Regions from separate parts of the Homo sapiens genome. Here regions 2 and 3 are each linked to region 1. The links come from fine-mapping of genetic effects on gene expression. A gene starts in region 1. Each other region holds a variant in brackets. All regions are shown on one strand. Distances are between the middles of the regions.

Region 1 (10,873 bases):
CTATTTGGAAAAAGCAGGTTCTCAAAAGGGACTGATTCAAAGATCAGTTAGTTCCTCCAGCCTCTAAAAACAAGTTTTGGGTACTTAATTTAAATCACTGCTTGAGGACTTGCACTGTCATTCTACATGAATCCCAACCACTTGCAGGAGGAACAACATTGCTCCATTCATTTCAAATTTACAGCATTAAGAATTAATAAAGTCTTTATAATGTCTGCATTATTTAAGAGTAATGATTCCTGAAGAAATCTGCCTGTAATATGTTTACTGTTTTTATTGCTTGTAATGTCGTCAATTTCCTTTTCAATGCCCTCAAAAGATTCTCTTCATGTACTTTGAACTTTGTTTACATTGGCTGTATTTTAAAAATATATACCAAGATTTAACTTGTACAATAAAATGACAATGTACAGCAAATGAATTATGGCGATGACAAATAAATGTTACTCATATCACCTAAAACTAAACCATAAATTTGTATAACATGTATCACCTAATTTCCATATTTAATAGGAATATGATTTTTTGCAGTAAACATTAAAATAGTATCAAGGAGATGTGAGATAATAGTATATTAAATAACCTTTTCTATAATCTTATTTTTACAATGGTATTCTTTGTCATAGAACATTCTTTAATTATTTTTCTTTCACAGACAAAAATAACAAAAGAACATCAATGCCATCTTCGTATTCTTAAAAGAGAGGGGTAAGGAATGAATGCTTCCAGCACCCTTTATTTTGTTATGCCTCAATATTGTCTGTAAAATAACATGGTTACTAAAAAATTCTTGATTTGAGCAAGACCAAAATTATTACAGTGTACTTTACAGTTATTTCACGCATGAATGTTAAAACATACTGAAATTATAAAACTTTCATAGACTTTTTTTCAGTATTCAGTTTAAGATAGGTTGTCAATAAGAGCTACTTTAAAAAAAACTGACAATTTTCTTTGCTCACTAACTATAGGAGATCATTGCAAATTATTTTCTTTCTCATGCTGCTATTCACTTACGTACTGCATATTTGCTTCAATTCTCCAAGGGAAGAAATGTGGCTCTTGTGGGAAAGGTCCACCCCTTTCTACATGTTTGCTTCCTTGAACGAAAGGAACACACCCCCTTACATTCTTTGAAATGTGTCCAACAATTGTAATAGCACTGTATTATTGACTAAATTAGAAAATCTTAAGTGATAGTCAAATATTGTTAATACACTGTGTATTTTGAGTCAGGAGAACTAAATGACACATATACAGAATGAAGTTCAATCTAGTGTCTACACTTGGATGCTATAGAATGTTTGTGTTAGTAGAAGAAACTCATGAATGTTTTTGTGTACAGGTATGTTGTATGACACCTCAGGAAGAGGCCCATGAATGTTACAAGTTTTTGATGGCCTCCTTTCAATTTAAGACCCATTACAGGAATGACCCCTTTCTTTCATAAGTATATTGGATAAAAAACATTTAGAAACTTAGGAAGTAGAATCAGAGAGCTGTTTGAAATCACAAACATGCAAAAATATCACAGGTCTACGCTTACCATCCTAATGGCAGAAAACTCACACCAAAGTTGGCACCCACTAACTTCTACCTCATTAAGGCAAGCTGCTGGTCATTGGATATTGTGTTCTAACACGACTTCCCTTTATGTAGAATAATATGTTTCCTTCCAAGGAAAGTTTTTCTTTTGTTGTTATTTTCTAATAAATATACTCCATATTTATAGAAAATTTTGCATTTATCTTTGATTTTATCTTTTCTAAATAGTCTTTCTTTATTCCACTTTTACAAAGAAATTTTCAAGTGTAAAGACACAGCAGGAAAAAAAATTATATCTCTTTTAAGATATTTTAGTGTGTAAATGAAATGGATAGTCCTTGTGCAATTTATCAGGCATTTCAGAATGAACCCAACTGTATAATTCCCAGGCCTACAAAATGAAAGCTTTGTTATTTACCTATGTTTCTCACTTGAAATAAGAGTGAATATAAAGAGTGAATATATAACTGCAACTGAAGGTAATAAACTTGTTAAAACTTAGTAAGATATTGTGATGGTCAAAGAAAACCTGCAAGTGCGTGCCACAAATCCACTCAGATGAAACATCTCATTCACTAAAATTTTCTATCTTATTATAATAGTGCACAGAAAATTAAACACATAAATATTAATTTTATGTATCACAGATGATGTAGGCAATGAAAATGCAATGTTTACATTTATGGGTGACTCATTAGTGTTTTATTGTGTGAAACACTAGGAGGCATCAGTTGGGTAAAAAAGGACTTCAATTTTAGAAGAAGCAAAAAATTACTGTAAAGTTGGGTGTGTAAGAAGTTAAGATTTTCAAAATGTTATTATGTAAACCAAAACTTTATTCTCTGAAATAAACTCTCAAAACATCATATTCTGTTGTAAAGAATGATCTTTATATAACATTCATGAAATATATATATTATATATATATATAAAATTTGACCAATGAACTTTTATGAAGATATGTTTCACATATATGGATTCATAACTATGTAATTACACATTTTTATGTAGAATATATTTGGTAACAGAATAACATAATGGATATTGACTATTATGCATTTTCTGCTGAATTACTCAATAACATGAGTGTATGTTTTATTTCTGGCAAATTCTGTTTTGTGCTCTTTATAACGCCTCTGAAAATGTCTAATGCATTTAAGCCTTACAATACCTGCTTCATGTAAGCAGACAATTTAATGTTTGTTCATAAAGAAATGATGGAACTTAAAATTTACACAATGAAGACATACATAAAAAAGGACATGTTTTCTCTTACTTCACTACTGAAAGCCTGTCATTTGAAAACTGAATTTTCCATTGTTTGAATGGATCATAATGATGAAGCAACAGGGTCAAAGTATGCTTATCTAAGCAATCATTTGAAATTGAGTGTCTTGCCATTCCTCAACAATCAGCTTTTATCTTTGACCTATCAAAATAACATGTGAACTATGTAATCTGCCTTTTGTAACGTGCATAGACTCTGTTGTTCCTGGTTTTGTGAATCACCTCTGTAATCTGGTTTGATTTCCTAAAGGTGACAGATCTCGGTGAACAGTCAAGCTTTACTGAGTGCAAGACAGTCCACGCGCCTATAAGATTAAGGTACAGTGCTAAGGACGGGGATCTTAATTACCTGTCTTTCCACATGCAGCATACTGATGGAACAACAGTGATTAAATCATTTCATCGTGTCTAGGCAATCACCACATTAGTATAGAATGAATACGTGTATTTTGATAAGTTTTAGATATTAATTTGTGTGGTATTTTCTCAGAGGATGTGCTTTTGAAAAAAAAGTGTAACTTTATTAATAATCTCTTAACAGTTCATCTTGTGACCATTAATTGCATATTAAATTCTTCTATGTTGCTTCGAATCATGTCCCCAAAGCCAGAATTCTGTTTAATAACTATGTCTTTGTTGTTATGTAGCACAAGTATTGCTGCACAGCTATTTCCCCATTTTTGTCACTTTCTGAGATTTCATAGACTCAAATTATACCACACTTTAGAGTTGAGAAATAAAACCACAAAATATACTACAATAAACAGAAGAAAGTTTTAAAAGATAATGTTAAGATATGCTAAGGAGTTATTCAGTGCTGTTCTTTATAAAAGAAGTTTAAATAAAGTATTTATTAGAAAGATACGTTTGCAGTGTTATGGAATTTATTGATTCCGTTAAGTTAGGGCCAAGGAAAAAATTTCAGGTATCTTTTCCCCCAAATTTTTCAAAATGAACATGTTTACAAAGAAGAAAAGAGGCAAAGTGCCTCTTGTTATCTAAGTTTCATGGAGTTATCTAGTATTAATGTGCTTCTCTCTTGAAAAGTTAATATCTGTGATTGCACACTTTTAAAATATGAATAGCTCAGAAAAGGTGGAAAACTGTTTTTATTATAAATTGCTCATTTGTTATTGAAATAAAAAACAAATTAACATTTAATAAAACTTACACTTTAATATTATCTTTCAATATATTCCACATGCACAGCAATCAGGACGTAAATGGTGCAATTAATGAATGAAGTAAAATGCTGCCTTTCCTAAGAAGTCTGAAAAAAAGTCAAACATTCGAATGCTGTGTGAATTATATTAATAAAAATAGTAGGTTTTTATAAAATTTAGTAAAATTTGAAGTAAAGGTAACAGCCACCTACTGTCTCTTTGACGGGAGAACCAAATTTTAAGCAAATGTTATGTTTAAAGACTGTTTTGATGAAAACTTTTAGAATTGAGTTAGTAGCAGAATACATAGCTAAATGTACTTTTCTACAAATAGAATGAGATATTTGATTTAAAATATTTCTTTCCTCTTGAAATAGGATGTTAGATAGGGACATCTCATTTTACCTATCAAGTTCTGAGTCTTGCTTTAGAACTACTTCTTTTAACTTAATTTCATGCATACACTGGAAGACAATAATATGGCTTTTTAACTGCATTATCTTTAGTTGAAACTGATGGAGAAACAAAAATACTGCTTATACCATATTGGTACATGCTGAATGTTTTTAAAGACTAGCCAAAACTGACATTTTTTAAAATTAAATAAGATGTTTTAGTTTCAAATTAGAGATTGTTGATCTATTTAAAGCTAAAATTGGTATGCAATACGAGGTTAAACGGGGTTCACAGGTGGTCACATTTCCATGTCCTACCAAGTCTCTAGGGATTGGAGTTATTATACTCCACATAAACATCTTTACTCTGCAACCACAATTCCATTGCAAGGTGCCAGTGAAAGTAGGCTAGTCGCTTTTTTTTTTTTTGGACTGGTATAATGAGGTGGCTGGAGTTTCCTTTATAGCACTTAGAAATTATATGCAGTCCCCAAGCATTTCATAAGACAGTTACTATTAGAGTTAGTTTCAGATTCACAATAGTAAAACGCACTTTGTGTCAAAGCAATTCTCCACTGAGGACCGGTTAAGGAACTGGCAGAGAGCCCAATTCTACTTAGTCTACTGTCAGCATTTACATATAAAGTATTTTATACAAAAGACACGCATTCCTAAAATGTGACAAAAAAAGGCTCTCCCCAAAGAATGATAACTACTGGACTTAGAATAGTCAGAAGTGATTCAGATATAAAATTTCCTTTAAAAAGCAATAGCCATGTTCAGGGAAGGAAGGTAACATTAGCATTAAATTTAAATACTTCCACAATATTTAATAATAAAATAAACAATGTGCCACATCTATATATACTTCCTTTGTGACAAACTTTATCATCGAGTTTGGTAACTTTCATTCCAAGTCCAAAGAGAAGGCAATTTAAGTGACTTAACCTTGCTTGCTTTTAAACAGCTATGTATTTGACTTGACCTGAACAGCAATCCATATGCTGAAATCGAACGTGAATTGTGAAATGTGTAGACTACTATGGCAGGGATATTACTTTTTGTCCACACCAATTAAGAAGCCCTCTGTCAAGCCGGCACTTTGGTGAGGGAAGGAAATGCACAAAGGTATACTCTGACAGACAGCCATGCTTTAGGTCAAACTAATCCCAAGAATTAGTGGCTCAGAAGCATAACCCAGGGCAAATCAGTGTCTTTGGGGGGACTCATGGGAGCATCTTTCCACAGTGAACTAACTGCTAAATCTTAAGGCGTCTACTTCAAGGTCACAGAACATGCTGTGAAATATTAAAATCCACCAGGCTCCACACGCTCCACCATATCAAACATGCTAATGACGTGAACTAACTTCATGAAACTTTAAATACACTGGTGTGACAGGAACGAGTCAGGAGTGATTTCAATAGCTGATGGCAAACGGATACGACTATCTAAAAAGTTACTTTTAGCAACAAACAAGGAAATCATGGAATCTAACGAAAAAGAATGCACAACGAGCCTCAACTTCAGCCTTCAAAAAAGGCACAGGGATAGATAGACACAGTGCCGTGGAATATATTGATGCAGATTTTAGAGACAATACCCGGGTTTTCTATTTCCTCGAGAAATATCAGGGGTACTTACATGAAGGAAGACCCGATCAGATTAGTCCTTGGGATATTTTCCTTTCTTAAGAGAGAGAGAGAGAGAAAAAAAAAATAACAACAATAATCTTTACTTCGTCCAGCGTTGAAGTGCTTCTCCACCTGATTCAAACATGCAGCCACGGCGACCCACACAGAACCTTCAAAGTCAATCCAATAGCAGCCCGAAGATGTCTGGGTGTACGCGTGTGCTCAAGTGTCTGTGACTGCGAGCAGAGCGAGCAGAGAGCTGGAGACGATGTGTGCGTGTGTGCGCGCGCGCGAGGGGAGCGCGCGCGAGGGGGGGGGCGCGGGGCCGCGCATTCGCGCGCGCCGAGGCCGCTCGGAAGAGGAGGAGGAGGAGGAAGAAGGAGGAGGAAGAGAAGGAGGAGGAGGAGGAGGAGGAGAAAGTGGCTCTCAGCGGCCGGTCGGATTAAAAGTAACCAGACTCGTCCAGAAAACTGCGTCCAGGAAGGAAGTGACAGAAGACGAATGGGAAAAGGAGAACAGCTCACAGCGTTTGAAACATCGCGTAAAAAAGACTGGGGGTGGTGGGGGCGGGGGGGATTGAAGGATACTGGGAGGGGAGGCGGGGGTGGTAGGGAAGACGGAGCACGAATGGTTGGGGTTCTAAGCAGCACGTCCGATGAAATGTCTTTTGCCTCCTTTTTTCCCCCTTTATTTAATTTTGTCCTTGCCTTTGCTTCGCGCTGCCTTTTTCTCTCCGTCTCTCTCTCCCCCACAATCCCAAACCGTTGACTCTTTCCTCGCGAGCTGGAGAAATCATCAGTTTCACTCTTGCAAAAGGGGGGCGGGACTAGACCTCGGAGCATTTTAATAAAACAAACATACAGCAGCTCCCTCCTCACCCCTCCAGTCTCAACTAGATTGATAAATTACTCCACTACACTACTTTAATTATGTATATGGTATGCAGAATAAATCACTGAACATCAGTACCTCAATCAAGCACTTTTAAATGATAATTGCATCTTGGTGAATCAATCTTTCCATTCCTGACATTTTGCTAATTTTAGTTTTACGGTGGGGTAATAGCACATGCCATACGCAAACCTAATGACAATTCTTTATTGCACGAAATGAAGACAACACGGCGAGCTGCGGCTCCCTGCTCCTCTCGCGGCGCCTCTGCGGAGGACGCTCGGAGAGAACCTAGTCTCCCGCTGCGGCGCGCTCGCTTGCTCTCCGGGGACGCTGCGAGCCAGCCAGCAGGAAAGTCCTTCTAAAGTCGGGATCTTTCCTCTGACCAATAGGAGCGCGACCCTAATAGTTGCTCTTGTGACTTTTCCCCCTTTTGGACACGCGTTAGCCACTTCTCTCTTCCACCGGTCGGTGCGCTCCTCCGTTACTCACGCGTAAAAACCACGGTCCAGGATGTCTGCAGCACTCGATTCCAGCGTGCTTTTCCTGCACGCCCAGAAGTCGCGGTTTTCACCCTGAGAGGTTGGAGCGCTAGAAAGCGAGCCGAAAGGTTTCTCTAATGTTAGTAATGTACGAAATAATAAAATAATTACCAGTATTTGAGATCTCGACTTCATCGCGGGGCCATGAACTTTCTAATCAGTTTGGAAATATTTACCGAGGAAGCAGCTTCCTCGGAGTTCCCCCCCTCCCCCCACTCTATCTTTTCCACACCTTACTGGACTTCATCCAGGTCATTAACATGTAAACCAAACCAACTTCCCAAATGCATTAGGCTACCCTAGCCGATAGCTGATGACTTCACTTATCCTGAAGAGTTTCAGCTGCACAGGAAGCAGAAATAGAGACTGATAAGGGAGGATACTTATGTTAAGGTTAAAGCATGATAAACACTTTTCCTTACAAAAAAAAAAAAAAAAGGCTTTAATATTTAGGCTACTAGAGATTGGGCACCTCCCGCCCTAACCAACTGTTAATATATACCATGCCCAATAAAGCCAAAGATAAAATACATCAACTAGTATAGAATCATGAAAAGACAAGATTGCATGCCAGTAGAATTATAGATTACATAAAATGTTTAAACCAAACTATTTTTTAAAAAATATTGTGAAAGCAAGAAGGGAAAATTAATAGAACATGGAATATATGAGATTAGACAATAGTATATTGAAATATCTAGCTAACTAAAGATTTCCTCACTTTAGAAAATTCCTTTTAGCACTACGTTTAACCCAATGACTAGTTGTATTTCCTGTTAAGTTCAGCAATATGCCTCCAGATGACTATTTTAATATATGAGGACAGTATGGTTCAAAAAGCCTCCTGCTTCAATGTAGGAGGTATTTGATGTGAGTAGCTTCTCTCAGAAGAGTGGCCTCAACATTTAGGCAACTGTCCCAAGGCTTCACTTGAAAGGGGAAGGTTTATTTTATAGGCAAGTACAACTAGATCTGAACAATCTTCAAGTTCCAGCTCATCATTGTGACTATCAGCAAAACTAAGACCATTCCCTCCCTTTTATTATAGGAATGCATCACAAACTGTCACAAAGCAAAAACCATCTGAAATAGTAGTATTTCTTGCAGATTAGTATTTACAATGTATTTTGTTTGCCGGTTTTTCAAATGTTGAGTTTGCCATTACCATGAATTCATTTTAATAATATGGCAGAGAACATCTGTATCAGGTTTCCATTCAAAGTACAACTTCTCTGAAAATCCAAAAATTTAAAGGGCAAAGATATTTCGAATACTAAGATATGTCTATATATGGTGGTAAAAATAAAATTAATTTTCTTCAAGATTCACGAAGGTCCTGAAAAAGCAAAGCATTTGAAGGACCATCTAAGTTTATTGCCATAATACCTAAAATTAATGCAGTGAGTTACAACAGTCTATTTGACATGAGCAAACACATAGCCAATACATGAATTTCAGCCCTGCTGTTTTTAATGAATTATAGAGGGTATTTCTGTTTACCACAGTACACTTCAGTTTTAGATGTTCTTTCAAAAAGAAATTATTTTATTTTACCTTTTCATATTTTAAATAATTATTTAATAATACCCATTATAACAAACCCATAATTATTAATGATACTGCAAGCATTCAAAAATAAGTATAACCCCACACTGGATAATTTGAAAATAATTTGGATCTGGAATGTATCACAGTTGGCCTTTTAAAATACAGGATTTTCCCCTCAGCAGATTTAGCTTCTTAATTATGTGTGACCTAAGTTAATATTACCATTAGTTTTCTTCCCATGAGCCTTTACAGTTGAAGCAGAAGAGATATGAAGAAATATACATTAGAAAATCACCTGAGATTTAAAATTATTCATGAGTAATCCACAAAGTAGTTAATCCAGAGTGTGCTTTGTATTCTTTAAATACTTCTGGACTTTTGGTTTCTGTTTCTGTTTTTGTTTTTTCTTTAAAATCATCCTGATCCTTGCCATCTAATGATACTTGGTTAGGATCAGACTATTTTCTCATGTAGGGAGGAGCTTGTACTAGGTGTCAGGAGACCTGGATTCTCTATCTAGTTCAAAATTTGTGCCTTACTAAGGGATTTGTCCTTTCTAGGCTTCAGTTCGCTTATGTGTTAAATGAGTTCTGTAACCTATTCCAGTTCTATCATTGGAAAACAGAAAATGTTTCTACCCTTTAAACCAATTGGAAGGTAGGGTCTATCCAGTTAAATAATAGGTGACAATTCCTTTAAAAGAAAATTATGTCTGGGATTGATGTACTACTGTACCAGCTTTTATTTTTTTCTAATCACCAAATATTTCTCCTACATTAAGTTGTAAATGCTTTATTGTTAATGTAAATATAGAGTCACTTGTTTTTCCCTCAAAAGAATTATGTTTAGCAATATATTTAATTAAAGTGTCATAGAAGTTACAGAGAGCATGCTCCTCGGGATTTTAACTCCAGGGAAAGCTAATATTGCAATTTCTGTTCAGAGCTGCATACCATCTTACTCCAACCTCCTCTCTTCACTACTTCCCTACATTAAAGCAGCGGTCCACTAAAGCCCTGTGCACTGGGTCTGCCTGCTTTTAAGCCTGGCCCACGCTGGGTGTAGCTCTTGAAGTGAGCTTTAAAAATTATTTTAAAGTGAACTGGGGCGGTTGCCACAGCAACCCACCCTGAGATGAAGAAAGGCTATAGATTAATGTACCCCTTAAGATTATTCAACTGTATAGTATTTGTTCCTCAGCCAGAATACTTTTAACACAAACATGATAAGTGAACATGGTGGTTTAGAAAAATCTAAAAAGCAGTGAAACACAAATTCCAATAGCATTACATATTTTAATCTTTGTCTAATTATAGTATTGATGATACACAGGACTTCCCATGAAATAGATTAATTTTATAAGATACAGTACTTGCAAAAGTAGGCCCTGAAAGATGACATGATCTTTAAGCAAAATGATATGTCATTGCTTATAATATAAAGTGTATGGTGGTCATTTAACTCTTTATTATTGTTATACACGTCTATTCTGTAAATACCTAAGGCCAAGGAGTTTGGCAGTTTTACCTTTATGGTAACTCTGTGGTAAATGATAAAAACAAATGTGAGCACTCACCACATACACTTCTTTACTGCCACAATCATTTGCCTTCCGTTCTTTACTTCATCTCTTCATAGAAGTTACTTCACAGTTTGCAACTCTTCTTTGGCACCTTCAAATGTGGAAGTGCAAAACAGTATATAGTATTTTGTTAATGCTGATATGAAAATACTTTCAAATAGATTTATTTCTAAAACTTCTAATCTGAAGTAACAATATTCTGATTTTAAACCAAAGTGTTTTGAATATAAGACAACTGAAATTGTCATGCATTGTGATAATAATCTTTAACATAAATAGTGCCAAA
Region 2 (10,873 bases), 420 kb after region 1:
TCTTTTTACTGTAGTTTCAGCAGCAATACCATAGATTGAGGAGTAGGTGTGCCAATATATAAACAAACCAATATGACAAAAATGACTAAAATTCATTTTAGATTTCACACAGTTATTAATTAGCTCTATTGTATTTCTACAGGATTTAAACACCTTTATATTATTGGTTTTAAAAAACATTGTGTTAATTGTCTGAGCTCTTTTTTTTCCAAACAGTATCCTATAAAAAGTATCTCTATTAAAGAAGAAAACTGGAGATGGCTAGTTGAAATAGCAGTCTGTAGTCACTCTCCTCAAACACATTTTTCTAGCCCTTATCCTAGAAAAGCCTCTAAAGATCCTATTGGGAACCCCTGGACTCCAGGAAACTCATTTTGAGATACTTCGTTTTATATGAAGAAATTATAAATGGAATTTTATATTCCTTTTTAAATACATCTGTGGAAAGAAATGCTATGTCTTTAGTTTGTAGAAATGGGAACTATATTAAGACAGTTTCCTTAAGTATTCTAAACACACACACACACACACACACACACACACACACACACACACAGATACACTCACCAAAAATAACAAATAAAAGGACATAAGGAAACTTTTGGAGGTGATGGACATATCTATTACTTTGATTTCTGGTGATGGTTTCACAGGTGTATGACTATATCCATCATCAAATTGTACACATTGAATGTGTGTAATGTATTGTATATTAATAATATGTTAATAAAGCTGTTAAAGAAAAGGGAACATTTTAGTGTTATACTCAAGATGGGACAGCCTTGTTTCTCCCATCTTTTCTTTAATATGGAGTCTGTCATTGATAGTTTCAAGACTGAAGGTTAATGTTTATAATACGTGATATATAGAGAGTCTCTAGTGGGAAATATGAAGAATGTTTGATGGCTCCAGATTAGTTTATTCTCACCTCAAAACAAATTTGATCAGTCAACCGTTCAACTTATTTCTTCATCAAACAAATATTTAATAAGCACCTACTCTGTGCCAGATTCTGCACTAGGCACTTGCAATATAGAAAGAACAAGAAAATGTTTCCTTCTCTTATAAGGATGACAATTCAGCAGGGAATACAGATGACATGTAGTAAGCAAATATGTACAAAAATAACTAAATACATTTATCATATGTGGTTAAAAATTATGGTAGATGTGTCACACTTAGTCGACACTTAAAAATGTCTACTTGTAATATGTGTTCATGTATGTACATCTCTGTGTATATACATAAAGGATAGATATAGATGGACAATATAATGTGTATACTTTACAAAATTCTGATATATAACTATACACTTATGGTGGTGAGTGCTCAAGCAATTTAGCAATAGAAGAGCACTCTAGGAGACATGGAAAACACTGGTCTTCAGAATAAGGTGTGAGGTCCTCAGTGTAATAGCCGAGGCCTTTGTTATCTGGCTCCAATCCATTTTCTCCCATTACTGCTCCACCTACTCAAATAGAATTGATCTCCTGGATCTCCCTTATTCCCATCCTGTATTTATACCCTACCCTTATATGGTCTTGTTCTTTTTGTTCTCTCTGCCTGAGACTTCCTCTTTTATTTCTGCCTACCAAACAATGCCCTATTTTGAACTATTGCCTGACTAAAATCTTTATCAGCTCATTCAACTCCGTGAGTTCTTCACTGATCATTCAGCTAACAGTGATGCCCCTTGCTCTAAATCCCATAGGAATTAATCACATTTGTGGCTTATATCATATGTTATATTTAAATTACTTGATTTTATGGTTTATACACTCATTCAGTAAATATGTAATAGGTGCCTCATGTGGGCCAGCAAGTAGCAAATATATCTTTGCTGCAAATAAGCTTACACTTTTTCTCTTTGGTGAAATTTTGTTTCTGAAGAATAAGGTTATATTTATGTACCTTTGCAGTTATATTCAGAACAGACAAGATGTCTTGAATTTAATAGTTGCTGAATAAAAATTGGTGAATGTGTAAAGTGATTTCATTTAGCTGTTGGTGAATACATGTAGTGCTTTAGAATGTAAGAAGAGATTATACTAAAAGCTGCCATATTTTTCATCCTTATAAGCAACTATACCTCTTCCTACTATTTTCTATATGTAACATAAGCCTAGATTAAAACTACTGAAGATTTTACCTTTTGAAATATATGCTGAGTTAATCTTCACATATCTGCAAATTTCATATGGAGAATTATGAGAATAAATTAAAGCACATTGACATGTATTTTTTGAAAGAAAGATATTACTATTTTACTTTGCATTATATAAATAAATATGGCAAAAGTTTTTTGGGAAAGCTTCAGTATTTCAATAGCCCAGTTCACCGCTTTATGATCTGTCTGTATACACAGTGGTTCAGTTATTCCTCCATCGAAGCTGATTCCAATGAATGCCCTATAGAAAGAAGAAAGAAGAAAGAATAGAAAGGAGAAGTAGATATTTCAAATTTTGCTTAACTCTGCTGGCAGTTTTCCATGATGTCAGCCGTATTTTCTTTTTGCTCCAATGCAGGAGTTCATGGGGCTTATTTCTATGTTTCTTTAAACCTGTTCTCAAGCCATGATGCTGAAGATCCCCCCAAATACATGGCGGACCTCATTCGAGTTGTAAAGCAAATTTTTCAAAACAGGATTTTATATCTTTATTTTTCTTTGCAGTTGATGTGGCTCTGAGTTGCGTTCTGACTGAGCTCCTGAAAAACAGTACTGAGAAGCTGTCTATAAATAAGTAGTTTTGTTTACAGGAACTTACTGGGGAACTGGACTTGTACCACCTGCCATTTGGCCAATGTTGAGAAGTGAGAGGAAGGGGTTTCAGATAATTCAAATCAGCCAATCTACCTCAATGGAGGCTACCTTCTTTTTCTTATTGTTCTAAACTAGGTGTACATACCTTTTCCTAACTAATACACCTTAGATTAGAGCTATCAAGCAATGTTCTTTTACTTTCTCCTATTATACCTGGCCCTCTCTTCTTACAAGCTTTCTAAGAATGTATTTCCTTTGCCTATTGTGTCAACTAAAAGAGAATTGGGTAGGATGAAAAGAACTACATGAAAATAAACTGCCTAGATTTATGAAAATAAATATATGCAAAGTTTTACACTTACCCAAAATTCTTAATTTAAGCCAGCTAAGAAACTTCAATTCTGTGGGCTAGTGGCAAACTGGAGTCCATATGGAGTTTCTCAATTGGTCTTTCGAGTAGGTGGAATATAAATATCATGACAGCATTTCTGTCATGTCCCTTCCGTGGTCAGAGATGCTGTCTTTTCTATCTTGTTGGCCCAATGAATGGCGTGTCATGACAGAAATCATTAGTGAATTTTGTTTAATGAGGTAGCCACTCAGCTGATAAGTAACTAAAGCCAGACACTTGTTTCCTGAGATGGGTTTTGTATAAACCTAAAATGCCATTAGAAGAGGGAGGCAATTCTATTACTAATTTAAGGCTCACTTAAAGCTTGCTATTAAGGCAAATAAGAAATGAGTAGGCAAAGTTTTCTGTACATTCTGTAAAACATAAAGTAATATGAGGTAATTGGAAGATAGTCTGAAAAAAAAGCCTATCATTCTCTCCAAAATTTTACCCATTTCACCCACACTTACCAGTGTCATAGCCCACGCTGACTCCGATGGCTGAGAACATCTGTAAGATGAAGAACTAGTACTGTATTCTGAGTCACATATCCTATTTTTATTTTAAAGCCTATTTAGAGCTTGGCTACTATTAGGCTTGTCCTAATTTTCCTCAGTTACTGTGATTTTGATTACTTGCAAAATATACACTAATAGAGACTGTTTTTAGTGGATGCCTAGGATTAGAGAAATAAAGATAAGTTAGCTTGTAAGTCAAAAATTTAAATAGACTTAAAAATATAGGAAAAGACAATTGTATTTTGTTTCTTAAATGCCAAATATAATTATTAAGAAATTTTCAGAAGATGTCATCTATTAATACAAACAACAGAAGAATTGAACTGAAGATCTAGCCACTGCTCTGCTCATCACTCTGTTTTCATTAGCAATTATAAGGAAGTAGATCCAGAACTAGAGATGCATGA[T/C]AACAAGACATTGGTGCAGTAACCAGTACTTTCAGACATCACCACAAAAACAAAAACTCAGTATTTCACAACCCTGTTGCATTGGCAATGTCACAATGCTACCTCGGGCAAGGATGTTGTCTCTTTTTGGGGTAAAATAGAGTTCCTTTTTCCCTCCCACAACCTTCTCCTGTAAATCACTTTTCTTAAAGGACAAACCTAAAGTTTCTTGGTTTCAAAATCACACTCATCATGGTGAGGGAAATCCGGCTCATGCCAATTAGAAAGTCAGCTTAATGTGTTTGCTTAGCTACGGAGAGTGATTAAGGGCACCGTTCCCTGGCAAACTACTTGTGGGTTCAAATATAAAAAGCCTTAAAAACACAATCCTAAGTGGTTTACTAATAACACAATTTACATCACTCTTGTATATTTTCAAAAAAAGAACATTACACCATAGTTTAAAATTTTAGAAAATGTATTAAGCCCACGGTGCTGTCATTGTATTCACTGAGGATGGCAAATTTCATCACACAGCCTCTCCTTGTCAATATATGCTTCTTGCCCTAATCATTATAAAACTCTTTTGGGGCCCCCCTTTCTCACCTAACAAATGCTAAGTGAAATGGAGAATTAATACATTTAGAAATTTAATTGAGGTTAAAAGACATCCTAAAACATACTCCAGACTTTCACCTTGAATATTTAGTGGGTTTTGTTTTTACACTTGAATTAAATAGGTAATAGTTTAAGTGCAGCTCCAATGAAGTGAAAGGCCAAAAAAAGTGGTCATTTTTCATTTCTGGCTACGAATATAATTCTATAGGAAATTTCTACTAGCCATGATGCTTATAAAATTAAAATACAATGGAATATACACAAATGGCCAGCATCTGGGATTGTAATCTGCACCTTCGTGGGGTGGTGAAGGCTGCAAAGATCATGAGAGGAGGAGAAGAATTTAGGGCTTCCTATCATCAATTCAGGCAGTAAGTCCTGAGCAGTAACTCTGGAAAGTCACTGCCATAGAATCACCGTGGTAATAATGTGTCTTGTTTTGGGCAAACTTGTCAACTTATGAAGAGAAAAGAGAAGTCTATAAAGGGCTGGCAATTTAACTTTAATATTCAACAAATGGCAAGCTGCAAATATGAAGAGAATCTTCCTTGTTTTCTTGTTTTTCCAATTGTGTTTATATATTGATGATAATATCAACATAACATTCATTTTATAATGTAAAGCATTATGTCATAAATATTACATATATGGTACTAGCGATATATTTTCAAAAGTTTCCCTTTAAAAAGAACTATGATTCTTATAATATGTTAAAAAATAAAGAACAGGCTACAGATATATCCAGGACACATTGCAGTATCAAAGATTTCAATCTAATGAAAATTTTTTGTTTATCTTGCTTCATTACATTCTCTAAGAATTTAATTTCCAAAGAAAGGAACAACTATTAAGATTTTTAGACTTTTAATGAAATTATTGTTGATTTACCTGCGTTGGGATAAACCATACGACAGAAGAATAGAGAAACAGATAATTATGGGGAGGTTCCTTTATGTTTGAAAAAAATTCATTCCTTAACAGATAGCAGAATGAAAGCATTTTCTTTGCTCTGGCATGTTTTCCAGGAATTCTACTAGTGCATGTGGAGAGAAACATGGCTGCTGCATGGAGTCATAAACCTCAGAGGAAGCTGAGAATGAGATGAAATGTATATGTAACCCTTGTGTATGGCAAGTTTGGCAAGAAAGAAAAAGCATACTTGGCAGATTAAGATAAGGTTTCTCTCTGTTTACTGATATAGTCTCAGGTTTGCATTGTGTGATGAATAATAGGTTGGGGGAAGATATCCTTTGTTTATTCATTCATTTCATCAACAAATATTTAATGAGTACCTACTATATGCCATGCCACAAAGAGTATAAACCTAGAGACAGAATGTTGAGTCACATAGACAGTGCTCCTGATACAATTATTTGAACTGAGTTAACAATACTTCAAGGTTCCATGTCTAATTTACTGGCTAGGTTCTCAACAAAATTTCTGGATAAGTTATTTGGCAATAGATGAACTTCAAATGAATCTCTTATCTTCATTATCACACAGAATGAGTTGTCTGGAATATTGGAAATTCACTGTGCTGTCCAAATTTTCTAAAGCTATACTTTGTGAAATCCCCAAACAATATGGATACATACTTGTCTCGTTCTGCTCTTTGCACCTACAATTGATACATTAAGTGTGCTATTTGCTACTTGTTTAAAGATTTGTGCATGTGTGGACTTTTTTGTGTATTAACCACAAGTAATGTTTTAAATTGCTATTGAGAAATAATGTGAGAAAAATATCTCACGTAGAACCTCATGCAGAGAAAATGTTCAATAAATGATTTTTTCCAATGATTAAACTATACTATTTATACATTTTTCTAAATGTACAAATAGTACATTTGTAGTGTGAACTACAAATAAATATAGTGTGAACATCAAGGACGAGGAACCAAGGGAGGAGTGATTTGTGAGTAGTCATCTGAGGTCATCTAGGGAGACCACTGCCCATATCAAGAAATTCTACTTCAAGAGAAAGTCAGCATTTAGGTGTTTGTCTTGGAGAGGGTATCTAAAGTCAAGAGTTAACTACCAACAGTTGTTGTTAAGTGAAGAAACAATTGCTTCTTTCTTCTAAGTCCACTTCTGCTTTAACTCTCAAGGAGTGAGGGGTAGAAATGATTGCGGGAGGAGGAGGAGTCAGAGAGTAGATTAGTTCCTCCACACCTGCCACATGTCCTTCTGTCCACTGATCAGGCCTAAATTTCTGGGACAGATGAATCCAGTTTTTGTAGGGCCTTATGAAATTTGGAGAATGCTCTTTCAAAAGCAGAACACAAAACATACAAATGCATCATTAGGTACAGGGTTTGTAAGAGGCCCTCCAAGTTCAGAGTTCTGAAGCTTAAAATTCATTATCTTTGCAGGAAAACTAGTTCTTATGGGAGTAAGGAAAAGAGCCATGAATTAGATATGATATTGACACCTGTGTTTAATAGAGACTGAATTTTTAAATATCCAGCCTCCTCTCTCTCTTGCTCTCTTTATCTCTCTCTCTCATCATCATTGACTTATCGTGTGTTCTAACAACTGAAAGTGATTGGAAATCTAAGATATGCCCAAATTATTGTCAAATAGCACAGAAAGCAGATCTGTCATAGAATATTAAAAGGCAATGGCTAGGGAACAATAAAGTCACTTCCTGCCTGTACCCTGAAACCATTTAATATCCTCAGCTCTAATTCTTTGTAAATTAGGAAAAAGAAGAGTATTTTATAATTACTTTAAATTAAACTCATTAATTAGAAGATAATCAATTACAGATAAATAATTAAAGATAAAAATACTCCCTTTGGGTGCAATAACTTCAGTCTCTGGGTGTGGACAAAAGTGCCAGAGGAATAAGTACCAGAAGGTATATTGTTAGAGCATAGGTCTAGCTTCATTTTATTTTTCATCTCATGGAGGAAGTAACTCCTTTGCCTGAGCTAGCTTGAGTCTTGTCAGAACAATTTCAGTTCTGAATAGGAATTTTTGTTTCCAAAAAAGGAGTCCCAGGTTTGCATTCTTAGAAAATTAAAAGGGATTATGACCAGACACATGATATCTTGTAATATTTGACTCTTCATTCTAGTACCATTTTTCCTCTCTATATTTCAATGAGAACATAAAAAGTCCAGAAACAACTGTCTAGAAACTGATGCATTAAATTTGTGGGAATTTCTGGGAGTAAATAAATGAAGCATTAGAAGTTTGGCTAATGGCTGTCAAAAATGTTTGGATGAATAATATTTAGAAAATTGATTTGTGAGATTCTGTTATCAGGAAATATATATATAATACTTTAAGTTCTGGGATACATTGCAGAATGTGTAGGTTTGTTACATATGTATACACATGCCACTGTGGCTTGCTGCACCCATCAACCCGTCATCTACATTAGGTATTTCTCCTAATACTATCCCTCCCCTAGCCACCCACCCTCCAACAGGCCCTGGTGTGTGATGTTCCCCTCCCTATGTCCATGTGTTCTCATTGTTCAACTCCCACTTAATAAGTGAGAACACGCGGTGTTTGGTTTTCTGTTCCTCTGTTAGTTTGTTGAGAATGATGGTTTCCAGCTTCCTCCATGTCCCTGCAAAGGACATGAACTCATCCTTTTTCATGGCTGCATTGTATTCCATGGTGTATGTGTGCCACATTTTCTTTATCCAGTGTATCATTGATGGGCATTTAGGTTGGTTCCAAGTCATTGCTATTGTGAATAGTGCTGCAATAAACCTATGTGTGCATGTGTCTTTATAGTAGAATGATTTATAATCCTTTGGGTATATACTCTGTAATGGGATTGCTGGGTCAAATGGTATTTCTGGTTCTAGATCCTTGAGGAATTGCCACACTGTCTCCCACAATGATTGAACTAATTTGCACTCCCACCAACAGTGTCAAAGCATTCCTATTTCTCCACATCCTCTGCTTTATAGCATCCTCTGCTTTATAGGTGTTAACCTATATTGTTTTAAGGGTTCATTGACTGCCTAATAAATATCTTCTCAAAGTCTGGACAAAAACATTCTCAAAAAAAGTATATGTTCCTTTCTCTGTCCCTAGACAATAAACCACTTGAGGATAAATCTGTGTGTATATTACTTGTGAGTCCTCAGAGCCTACCACATTGCTTGGAACATAATAGGCACCCATTTATATTTTTAAATAAATGAATGGAATCATCAAATCTACTACCAAAGTGGTATGTTGGAAAAATGTTATTAATAATTAAGGTGGATAACAGGGAAGGAAGATTAGTACGTGGTTCTACTTCTGACTTCATATAACTGCCTGAATGTCCATTTTAGTAGTTGTCAAAAATTCAGTTAAACTGTTTTGTGTTCCATGTATAAATGGAATCATGTAGTATTTGTCTTTTTGTGCCTGGCTTACTTCATTTAACATAATGTCCTCCAGTTCATCCATGTTGTTGCAAATGATAAGATTTCACAGAAATAGGGAGTAAAACAGTGGTTACCAGAGGCTGGGGAGTAGGGGATAGGAGATTGGGAAGATATTGGCCAAAGGAAACAAAATTTCAGTTACAAAGGATAAATAAGTTTAAGAGATTTATTTTACATATCATATTGCATATTAAAAAATTGCTAAGAGAGAAGGTTTTAATGGTTCTCACCACACACACAAAAAAAGTATGTAAGGTAAATAGATTGATTTGAGATATATATATATATCTCAAAAACATCATATTTTACATCACAAACATACAACTTTTATTTGTCAATTAACAGTATAAAAACAATGAATAACAATTCAAGTTTGCACAATTAAATCACTATCTCTGGTAGAATTGATGAAGCCTAGATTTCTAAATTAAAAATTATTATATTAAATGAGTTTGTAACCAAAATGGCTAAAACAGACTTAGAGTCCAAGTCTGTAGGACACAAAATCACCTGCATTTTTCACTACAACAAAATGGAATGAGAGTACAGAATTGAGCAATGTAACTGTCAATCACTGAGCAGTGACAGCAGTGGTCACAGTGGTCGGCTCCATTGAACCTTCTGGGGAGAGTTGCATGACAAAATGCTGTACTCTCTCTGACCTTCATTTGGAAAGCCATGAGCCTTGTCAGGCTTGGCTAGAAGACGTTCCCTCCAATTTGTGCGAGGGGCCCTCAGAATGTACTAGTATTATCAGAAAACACCCAAGCCACAGGAAATATAACTCTCAAGTAAGAAGAACACATCTAAGTAACAATAGCAGCACCTTAAATTTGAAAGCTCGCATTTACCTAAGCAGCACTTTCATCTAAAACAAAAGAAATTTGGAGGGTATTTTTAGTAATGGTCCTGGTCAAAGAAAAGCATCTGCTTTCATGATTTCAAGCAGCAAATCTACTTTTGTGAATATGCTGTGGGGGCTTGAAAGGATCTCTCAACAGACTCATACATGTTAAACTGCCTGATGCTTAATGTTAGGCTTATCTTTTTTTTTTTTTTTGATAAATTCTCCTTGGGATGCTTCTCCTACTCATCAAAGTTTGAAAATTCATCTTGAAGAGATCACAGTTCTTAACCCAGGTTTTAAATCTAATCAGATGACAGAACCTAGAAATTCATTAACAGTGACTCACAAATCCTCTCCTATTCCTTTTTTTTTTTTTTCTGTTGCCCTTCTAGCACCTGTGGGTTCCTCACTTTACTGTGATTTACCACACACACACACCAAAATCTGGATTGGGCTTTGCTATCTCTCATGTTTCCTCTGGCTTATCCATCTTACAAGTCACTACCTGACATAATTGCATAAATGGCAACTCCAATTACACAATTACCGTCTTCAAAAGGTCTTTTACCTTATAAGGTGAAATGCAAGTTAGCTCATCATTTTCATTTTCAACTCACTTTTCTCACCTTAAGTTTTTAAGGCATTGTATGCTCTTGTCAAATAGGTCTCCTCACTGTTTTTCCTATGGATGTCATATTGATTATTGGCTTGGCATTGTTTCTTTCTCTAACTCATTCCTTTTTATGGCTGAGTAGTATTCCATCAATTCCTATATATATATATATATATATATATATATATATATATATATAGGAATTCCATATATATGGTGGAATATATATATATTCCATGTGATATATATATATATCGCAATACATATATATTCCATGTGATTTATATATATATATGATGGAATATATATATATATAATCCATGTGATATGTGTGTGTTTGTGT
Region 3 (10,873 bases), 440 kb after region 1:
ATTTTAGTTTTTAGAAGTAAGATGTCATAGTCTAAGGTGTAAAATCCAAATCTAGTTGGTTTGAGGCAAGAAGTGCAAATGAGTGAGAATTTCTTTTTTCCAGAATGGAAATTCCAAATGACCAAGCCACTTACCAGCTGTGTCCCTGTATGCAGGTTTCCTTACAATGTGAGAAAGGCATATTGATTCAGTGTTTTTTTTATAAATACATACGTAGTGGTTCATCAATCATATGAGGTTGGGTGGTTACCTTATGGTAACTCTATAAGTCATTATCAGTGTAGTAAGGAGTCATAAGCTCCAGTTAGAATATTGTTTTCATAGTCTATCTTCCATATACTCATTCCTACTTGTTAAACTTGAAAGTTAGTAAGAATTTGAGGGAAGGGGAAGGGGAAAGGGAACAAGAACCATTCATGTGGATCATCATTATTTTTTTAGTCCAGGACTAATTTTGCTATGGTTTATCTGTCTGTTCCCTTGTTCCTCTGCCCCTTCACTCTGACCAGTTCTTTTGTAAAACATTTTCCTTTTACATGTATTTCAGAGATGTATTATTGTCTTTTGTTGACCGATGGGAAAAGGAAGAGGAAAAGAGGTGACCGAGTCTAATAATTCTTAAGGACAAGACCTGAAAGTTATCTTTATTTCCATTTATATCCCATTTGAAATGACTTAGTCGTAAGATTCAGATAGCTGAAAGCAATGCTAGGTAACAGGGAATATAGCTGGATGACCATGCAGGGAGTTTATGTACAAAAGGAAATAGCAGGGAATAGATAATGTGGGAAATTAGCAAGCTCTATTACAATAAGCATATCCTAACAAACTAAGCTAATATTCTACATAAAAAATATAATTTCACAGTATAACATACACAGTAGGAAACTGTTGGAGACAATAATTTAATACAAAAATTAGGTGACGTTCTATTGAGAAAATATTGCCTATTTGTATTTGCACCAAGCAGAATAATTTTTCTTGATACATAGCCTTAGAGAACTAATATGTGTGTAAAATAGTGAATATTTATAAAGTATGTCAGAGATACATGTCCAATTCATATGAAACATGTCCTAGATTTTAGGTTTTCTGAATAAAGAAGAAAAAGTTTAGTCAGTTAACTCTATATTTGTTTTTTTGGAATTTCCCCAAAAAGACACAACATATTTTCATATTTTAATGTTCTATTATACCAATTATTATGCTTTAATAAATCTTATTAGTGTGATGGGTCCATAAAACCTAATTGGTCACTGATGGAGCTTTCTCACAGTAAAAACTCTTTATTGTACTTAAGAATGACAGGTAAATTAAAGGTCCTTAATGGAAGAACAAGGGAAGTCTTGGTTATAGTATATATTTAGCTGGAATGGAGTACAGTAGTTCATGGCACGTCATCCTTCCGGTTGTTCATTAATGAGGGCAAGAGGAATGTGATATTAAAGGAACAAATCGATGAAGGAGTAGCTTTAAAGGCAAAAATAGTATGATTTCAAGAATGCAAAGCAATAGCACTCACTTCCAGTCTCCCAGTAGAGAAATCTGGTTACAATATTTCTTTTTGCTCAGTTTTCCCTCAATCTCTAGTTCATTATTGAGTCTTATTGCCTAGCCTCCATAAATACCTTGATCTATCCCCTGCTCTTTTCCCAATGTTGCTAGTCTATGTTAAATCTAGTTTATTGCAACAAGCCCCCTAACTACTTTTCTTGCTGTTCATCACACGCTTTTGTACTATACTGCCCACGCCTGTCATAGTGCATTACCCAAAGTACACGTCTGTGAATGTTTTCCCCCTAGAATCCTTTGATAGCTCTCCATGATTTTAAGGATAGAATAGTGTCCTTAGCTCAGCATACATGGCCCTTCATAATCTGGCTTTTGCTATCAATATAGTTTCACCTGTTGTAGTTTCTACATATGTTCTCTCTAAAAATAAAATTATTTCTAATTCCCTGGATATATCCTATAGTTTCATACTTCTAGGCCTTAAAGAACATCATCTCCACTTTGTCTACTTGGCTTTCTTCAATTTCATCTTCAGGATTGAGCTCAGATTTCACTGAAAGAAAAACAAGCAATACAACCTTCTCTAGATGATTTTCTACTTCTGGCCTGGCGTGGTGGCTCATGCCTGTAATCCCAGCACTCGGGAGGCCAAGGCTGATGGATCACGTGAAGTCAAGAGTTCAAGACCAGCCTGGCCAACATGGGGAAACCGCATCTCTACTAAAAATACAAAAAATAGCTCAGCATGGTGGTGGGTGCCTGTAATCCCAGATACTTGGGAGGTTGAGGCAGGGGAATCGCTTGAACCTGGGAGGAGGAGGTTGCAGTGAGCCAAGTTGTGCCACTGCACTCCAGCCTGAGTGACAGAGAAAGACTGTCTCAGAAAAATAAAATAAAAGTAGAATTTTCTACTTCTAACATCAGGGTTAAGGGCTCCTGTCCTGGGCACTGATTATATCTCAGTCATGTCTCTGTCAGACTACCTGTTGCACTATATTGCATCTCACTATGTTGTATTATATGCTACAGATCAGTCTGGTCTGTGTGTTCCTTGAGACCATAGACTATGTCTTTTATCTCCACCTTCCTTACACCTAGCCCTTTTATAAAAGCCAATAGCTACTCTTTGAGAGCTTGCTTAAGAGAATTAGTTGATAAAGTAATGATAGAAATGTATGGTGATATTTATAAGCCTTGTGAGCATTTTTCTTAGATGTAGACAAATCTGTGAAACATTTTCTTCATTAATTAGTGGTATTGAAAAGGTATACTAGAGAGTTTCAGGTCCCAGGCACTCTAGACAAACTGTGTATTCACTTTACAAGCCAGTCATCATATTTGCCAACTTCAATAATTCCCTATTTTATCTGAAACAAACAAACAAAAAAGAAAGAAAAAGATTCTGTTATTACTCTGTATTTAAATGAAAGATGTTGAATGAGATTGAAACAAAAATGATTCCCTCAATACAAATTCTTAGAAGGCATGGCAATTGCATTTTGGATTATGTAGCAGACCATCAGTGAATCAATAAAATATCAATGATCAAAAATTAAAAATCAATTTTTAAAAAGTAATTTATTTTTAATGGACAAATTATAATTGTATATATTTGTGGGGTACAATGTAATGTCATAATCTATGTATACATTATAGAAAGATTCCATCAAGCTAATTAACATATACATTATTTTAGCAACTTACCATTTTTTTGTGATGAGAATGTTAAAAATCTATTCTGTTAGCAATTTTGGAATATATAATACATTATTATTAACTGTGATACCCTGAGGTGCAATAGACCACTAAAATTTATATCTTCAGCCTAACTGAGACTTTGTGCTCTTTGATCAACATCTCTTTTTTCCATCCTTCCCTCTCCCAACAAGCCTCTGGTAACCACCTTTCAACTATCTGTTTCTATGAGATTGACTTTTTTAGATTTCATATCAGTGAGATCATATATTGTTTGTTTTTCAATGCAAGTGGCTGTAAGGATATCCCTCACTCTGTTTTCATATTTGAAAATAAAGTCACATTAGCAATACATTATAGAATCATAGAGAGCTAGATCAAGTTCTTTTACAGGGAAATTATCAGAAATTTTCTATTTAGAGAAACTATTTCTAAGCACCAAAGGGCTATTAGGAATAATATTTAATACACTGTTTTACTACTATTCTGCAAAATATACACCCTCCAGAAAATTACTGTAAGACTCAGCCACTTTGAACCACACCTGCCTCTGAGGATTTTTTTTACTGTTCACTCTCTAATTCTGTCTAGAGTAAAACACGTTCTTATTACGGTGAACCAAGATTACCAGGTCATCTAAATAAAACTATTGTGTCAACTGCTTGAGTAAAATTTCTATTAATTTTATTTTCTTTCTTCAATTCTGATTATTGGTTAGAACAAATACTTCGTTTAGTTATAGAATATACTTAAATCATCAACTGTTTTGGTGAAAAGGATCATTTTGCTGAAAGCATTCTACTAAAATTGACAATTGTTTTTCCTTTTTTTGTTGTTATTACTGCTGTTTTCCTTAAGTAACAAATATTTAATGGATATTGGTTACAGAGCATTCTTTCCCCTAAAGAGAATATCTATGGACTAAGAAGTCAGTAGTTTCTAAATTGTATTGCTTTCATTCCTGTTTTTAAAAAAGGAAATAGAATTCCTAAAATAACATTGTATGCAAAAAAAAGAAAAACATTCTATTTGGTAGACAAAGGAAACTCATGGGTTGAATCACTTCTTTCCCCTGAATTCTTTAAAAACTTCCTCTCTATGTCACTTTCAATTTGAAATAAACATTTGCAATAGGCATTGAAATGGTTCTTTGATATTCTTGAAAACAACCTCCCACCTATTTTCCTCTTCCTCTTTCCTTCCACTTCCTCCTTTATCAGGTCTTCTGTTTTCAGATATCTGACTCAAACATGAAAAATTAATTCAAAAACACTATTGGATCTTCATTTACCATTTTCTCAGCATAAAGGTCATACTCTATAAGGTACAGTTAACCCCATCAATCCAGAAAAATTCCTGGCTCATATTTGGAATGACACTTGCTTTTATTCCTTTTTATTAAAAAAATATTATTATTATTATTATTATTATTATTTGAGACAGAGTCAAGCTCTGTTGCCCAGACTGGAATGCAGTGGTGTGATCTTGGCTCACTGTAACCTCCGCCTCCTAGGTTCAAGTGATTCTCCTGCCACAGCCTCCTGAGTAGCTGGGACTACAGGTGCTCGCCACCACGCCCAGCTATTTTTTTGTATTTTTAGTAGAGACGAGGTTTCAACTTGTTGGCCAGGCTGGTCTCAAACTCCTGACCTCAGGTGACCCGCCCGTCTCGACCTCCCAAAGTGCTGGGATTACAGGCATGAGCCATCATGCCTGGCCTAATTTAATTTTTAGATCGAGGGAGTACATGTGCATATTTGTTACATGGGTATATTGCATACTGTGGGGACTGGGTTATTAGTGTACCCACTACCCAAATAGTGAACATTGTACCTCATAGTTAATTTTTCAACCCTCACTCGCCTCCATCCCTCCCCGCTTTTGGAGTCCCCAGTATCTATTATTTCCATCTTTACGTCCATGTGTACTTACTTTTTAGCTCCTACTTACAGACGCTTGTTTTCATTCTTGAAAAGATAGTATTGATTCAGACCTATGGACATTTGAAAGATAAAAATGTGCTTTTTCTCAGAGGGCTTTTGTGTCACCATGTTTTGCATTTTTCAGAGTCATATTTGTCAGAAACCTCACACTGCTTCATTTAGTTCTCTTTAAAATCTTAACATATGATGAAAGCATTCCTTTCTGATCTTAACCCATAATGCAGTAGACTGTTTTGGTTAACTTGTTTTAATATACTACAAAGACAAAATTATTAAATATATATTTATCTCTTCCTTTGTATATAATTTTTCATTCATAATTGATGCATTAACATGGTATAACACTAGCGAAGTGGATGTATTATTTAATGTCAAGACATTTGACTGTGAGCAAGATGCTATTATGTGAACATATTTTGAAAATCATCATGCTTGATGCAAATGCCAGTTATCAGCATGAGTCTTAACATTTGAGTGTCCTGTGGGTAAATGTATCCCTTCAAATTTCACTTTTGTACAGGGCTGTTCATATACTTCTTTCATCTGTCTCTGGTATCAAAAAACCAAATGAAAAATTTTAAAAATGAAATTGTAACTCACATTTCTTTGGGTTTGTACAATGTATATAGTTACATTGGAGCAACCCCCAATCATGGATATTTTCCCCCCTCCTTTGCTAATGTAGAATTTCTAACCTCTGTCAAAGTCTTATCCAGTTCTGTTCAGGAGTTCACAGGAGTATCTCCCAGGAGCTACAAATAATTCTATTGCATTCCTGTAGACTGCAGTTCCCAGGAAGTCACTGGAGAGTGGCCCCTCAATGATGCTAATTGTTTGGAAAATAACACTTCACGT[G/T]ATTTCAGATGATATTTATAAAATATAAACATTATATAGTAATAAATACATAGACATATAGGTATGTATATGAGTAAATGCATATTTTATTTGCTTATTTATTAAACATAGTTGTAACTTGGTTAGCAATATGGAATATATTATGGACTTTTCCCATGTGCTTGTGTATATATTTAATGTTTTTTGTTTGTTTTTAGAATTAAATACTATTCAAGAACATGGCTATACCATAGCTTGTTTTTCCAGTCTTGATATTAATAGATATCCAGTTGTTCCAATTTATTTTTTGTTATTATAAACAATACTCTAATGAACATCATTGTTCTATACTTGATTAAGTACTACAAAGTAAATTTCTGCAAGTGAGAAAATTGGGTTATAAAACATCTGTAATTTAAGTTTTGATATATCTTGTTAAATCTCCTTAAAAAAGTATAAGAGTTTGCTTTTCTACATTTCCACCATCTGTCTATCTATCTATCTTCTATCTAGTCAATATATATCACTATCTATATCACTATCTATATTTATCTATCTAATCATTCTCTCTGTTTATATCAATATCACAATCTCACTACCATTGAAGTGATTCTTTTAACCACTGTTAAGGATAAACAAAGACAATGATATTTGTTGCCCCCCCAACTTATGTTTAAGTTTTCTGCATATAGAAGAATATTAATTCATCTTTGTAAATCATTACAATATTTGGCTCATCATTCTGCAACAGTTTAACCTTAACCATACTCTGGTTTACTTAAAAGCAAAACATTCACCTCCTTGCTCTTCCAAACTGCAGAGACTGAAGGTATATGTTTTGTTTTGACACTACTTCTTAAGCAATTAGGCCTCTGAGGCGGAGGTGAATACAGGGTCAGTGGAATTTTCCTTCATATGTGTCTGTTTATCATTGGAGCAAGCTGAGTTCCTGTTATGTAGAGAGCTTGAATAATTCTGAATTTTGCTATGGTTCTGAACTAGGGCTGTTATGAATTGCTTGGTCCAAAGGTTACAGTAACAACCAACTTAACAGGCTTGTGGTTGTTTCATCATTCATAATGCTTTTCGAAACTTACACAAATCCTTCTCCATTCCTAAAGATGAGCATCCTAATTATGGCATGTCGTTTGACCTTACTCTTGAGTTTCAGATTCCAAAAACATATGGGCCTTTTAAATGGAACTAGCAAGCAATGAAAGCTTACACTCTGTACCAAAGTCCTTTCTAAGATAGGAAAAGAGGGGGTTCTTCCTTCCATTGCAAATCGTTCCTTCATGCACTTTATCGACACTCACTCTGACTCTGCTCATGGGTTTTGCGTATGTGCTCTGAAGGTGTTTATGCTCATCTCCCCAGTAAAATATACTAGCTTACACTTTCTACTGCTTAGTTACTATAAGGCAGAGGACACCGTCGGTCACAAAGAAACTGGAGAAATGAGGCAACCGCCCAGTACTAGGAGCCAATGCACACACACACACACACACACACACACACACACCTGCACAAAAATACATAGAATATTGAGTGTTCAAGGTATCGTTTGAAGAATAAGTCACAACTCTTCACTTTAGTTTTGTATTAGTTCATTCTCACATTGCTATAAAGAAATACCTGAGACTGGGTAATTTATAAAGAAAAGAGGTTTAATTGATTGATAGTTCTGCAGGCTGTATAGGAAACTTGGCAGCTTCAGCTTCAGGGAGGACTCAGTAAACTACAATCATGGCGGAAGGTGTAGGAGAAGCAGCAGGCACGTCTTACGTGGACGAAGCAGGAGGAAGAGAGAGAGCCGGGAGGCGCTACACACTTTTTTTTTTTTTTTTTTTTTTTTTTTTTTTGAGACGGAGTCGTGCTCTGTCGCCCAGGCTGGAGTGCAGTGGTGCCATCTCGGCTCACTGCAAGCTCCGCCTCCCGAGTTCACGCCATTCTCCTGCCTCAGCCTCCCCAGTAGCTGGGACTACAGGAGCCCGCCACCACGCCCAGCTAATTTTTTTTTGTATTTTTAGTAGAGACGGGTTTCACCGTGTTAGCCAGGATGGTCTCGATCTCCTGACCTCGTGATCCGCTCGCCTCGGCCTTCCAAGGTGCTGGGATTACAGGCGTGAGCCACCGTGCCCGGCCGGTGCTATACACTTTTAAACAACCAGATCTCATGAGAACTTTATCAGGAGAACAGTACTATAGGGATGGTGCTAAACCATTCGTGAGAAACCACCTCCATGATCCAATCACCTCCCACCAGGCCACACTTCCAACGTTGGGGATTACAATTTGACATGAGATTTGGGCGGAGACACAGATCCAAGCCATATCAAGTTTGCTGATATAGAAGGAATTTATTCTCTATTATCCTTACTTCAATTAATGTTTCAATCACTTTCTTAACACCATCCACAATTTGCACCAGATTTCAGACATTCTTCTATCAAACTTGTGACTTTCATTTTACCAAAAAAACTTCTACAATTGTCCAATATTGTCTTTAAATTGAATTGCTTTTTTTACTTTGAATACATTTGTTTATAAGAAAACACATGCTACTACTCTAAGAGAAAAACTAGAATCACTAAAATAAGTGGAAGTAAATACTGTCAAAGCAGAATAATATTATTTGATTCTACCTAGGTACTAATTCTTGCCACAGGTTCTGGCTCTCAGGCCTCCTCTTTTTTTGTTAAAAAAAAAAAAAGTGGGGGGGGGGGCGATGTATAGGTAATTTTTAAAGGCTAAAATTTTAATAATGTGGCATTATTCCTAGGATCAACAATGATAACTATGCACATTTTGAGAAATACTTGTGCTTGTCTGCATTAAACTAACTCTTCAACCCCAAATAAGATACATAATTGTTTCATTTGCTGATATATGAAATAGTACAATTTAGGTGTTTCCCTATGAAGCAGAATGGTAGAACTGATTCCATGAATACTTTTTTAGACCACATTTTTATTTTAAAACCTTCTCCCCCCCAAAAAGTCTGTAAATAATCAGTGGGCTACAAATGAAAAACATTCAAATGTGAGTTTTTGTCACCTCCCAGAAGGATTATGGCTCCCACATGGGTAATAACAGTAAGAAAAATTCCAGCATTTATCTTTTCCAATTTCCTTCTAGGAGTTTCTCTACTTACTCTTTTGTCTATATGTCGTGCCATCCATATTTGAAAGCCCATATTAAGGAAAGTGAAATCCTTGATATGCTGAAGATTTGGGAGATAGCTGGGATGAGAGCTATTTTTTTTTAATCCATTCCCAAGTGATCCTGTTGTTACATTGTTCCGAAAGAGAGGCATGTACTGTATTTAAAAATCAAATACTAATATCAAATATTCCACTGAGCAAAAAAAAGCCACTATATACTTTGAGTTTGTCACTGATTATCTAATCTTAAAAATAGTACCAAAAAAAAATCTGTTTTCTCCCCTGACTCAGCAAATAGTCAGATCCTGCAAGTATAAAGACTCACACCAGTCAAGTAAGTTATATATAATATTCTAGGTTAAGTCATTGACTCACATTTCAATGAAATTGTTATTTCCATAATGGGAAACCACTAGAAATTTATATTTGGATCCTCATAATCTTACATAAGTGATCAACCTACTCTATTCCCCTCTTACTCATCCACCTTGCTCATTTTTATAGGACTAAAACCATTTAGAGAACCTCAAATATTCTCAGCAGATGAAACTGCAGAATAACTATCAAAATATCTTCTTACCAGAATTATATAAATGACATTCATCAAACTGATTGATTATAGATGGCAAATATCTTAGCTGGTCCTTGGTATGTTTTTTCAAGGAGTGCAAGTATGATATATTCCTTGACTCTTTACACACTTATAGATCAACCTTTATTTTAAATTTCACTCTATTTATTTGATTAAGGAAATGTACCCAGAAAACCTTCTCAGCACCTCAAAACTGCAATAAGGTTTGTAAATGTAGTGGTTTTGGTGTCCTGATTGGCATTCTTCCCCTTACCTTACCTCCCTACATCCCAGCATCTCCCTCTCTGCCCCTTCATCTTTTTCCTCCCCTCTGCTCCCTTATTTGATTCCTTTAAAATATGTCCATTGAGTGCCTGCTATGTATGAGGTACTATTGTAGAAGGATTTGGGAAATAGTGGTAGGAGACAGTAGTAAAAGACACATACTCTTCTGGAGTTAGAACACCTGGATTTGAAGCTGAGCTCCATCACTTAGGTTAATCAAAGAGTATGTAGTAACATTCGTACTGTACAGCTGACCTCTGAGCATTTATGTGCTCACTTGGAAAGTGGGGCTTCTTCTGAATGTTGCTGAGTATGTTCAATAAGAACATTCTGGCAAATCATTTAGCTCAGGGCGTGACTGATAATAGACAATCAATAAATGATAGCTGTTTTGCTACCTATCATTATTATGGAGTCCATTCTATTGAGAATTACAAAGTCTAGAGGAATTACAAAATAATGCAATTTCATCATGCACTATTGACATACTGTGGTACAGCTCAAAGTGCAAGGAAGAGGAGACACATAAGAAGTGCAACTAAAACAGCCTTGAAGGAGGGCAATGATGCTTTTCTGGGGAGGTGACATTTGAATGAGGTCCTGAAAGGTTAGTAATGTCTGCCAGTCTGGAAGGGACCAGAGGGAGGACAGAAGTACAACTCTAGGGTGAGGTGAAGCAGCTATATATTTCTTTTTCTTTTTTTAAGTAGGTGGCAGATTCACTGTGTGTTTTATTATTATTATTATTATTATAACTTAAGATCTGGGGTACATGTGCAGAACGTGCAGTTTTGTTACATAGGTATATACGTGCCATGGTGGTTTGCTGCACCCATTAACCCGTCAACTACATTAGTTATTTCTCCTAA

The links.
Region 2: its variant is fine-mapped to the expression of MEF2C in whole blood (TOPMed, PIP above 0.99).
Region 3: its variant is fine-mapped to the expression of MEF2C in whole blood (INTERVAL, PIP 0.99).

What each region holds. Positions count from the first base shown.
Region 1 is chr5:88,876,921-88,887,793 of GRCh38, forward strand. MEF2C (myocyte enhancer factor 2C) reads right to left here and starts at 6,264. Exons shown (of 11, transcript NM_002397.5): 1 at 6,035-6,264. MEF2C-AS1 (MEF2C antisense RNA 1) reads left to right here and starts at 6,410. Exons shown (of 10, transcript NR_136219.1): 1 at 6,410-6,565. RefSeq lists an enhancer at 7,322-7,371.
Region 2 is chr5:89,299,051-89,309,923 of GRCh38, forward strand. All of the region lies in intron 7 of MEF2C-AS1 (MEF2C antisense RNA 1), which reads left to right. Among named protein-coding and RNA genes, the nearest start is that of LINC02161, 280 kb to the right of the region's middle. The variant T/C (reference allele first, on the strand shown) is at 4,078.
Region 3 is chr5:89,320,849-89,331,721 of GRCh38, forward strand. All of the region lies in intron 7 of MEF2C-AS1 (MEF2C antisense RNA 1), which reads left to right. Among named protein-coding and RNA genes, the nearest start is that of LINC02161, 250 kb to the right of the region's middle. The variant G/T (reference allele first, on the strand shown) is at 6,006.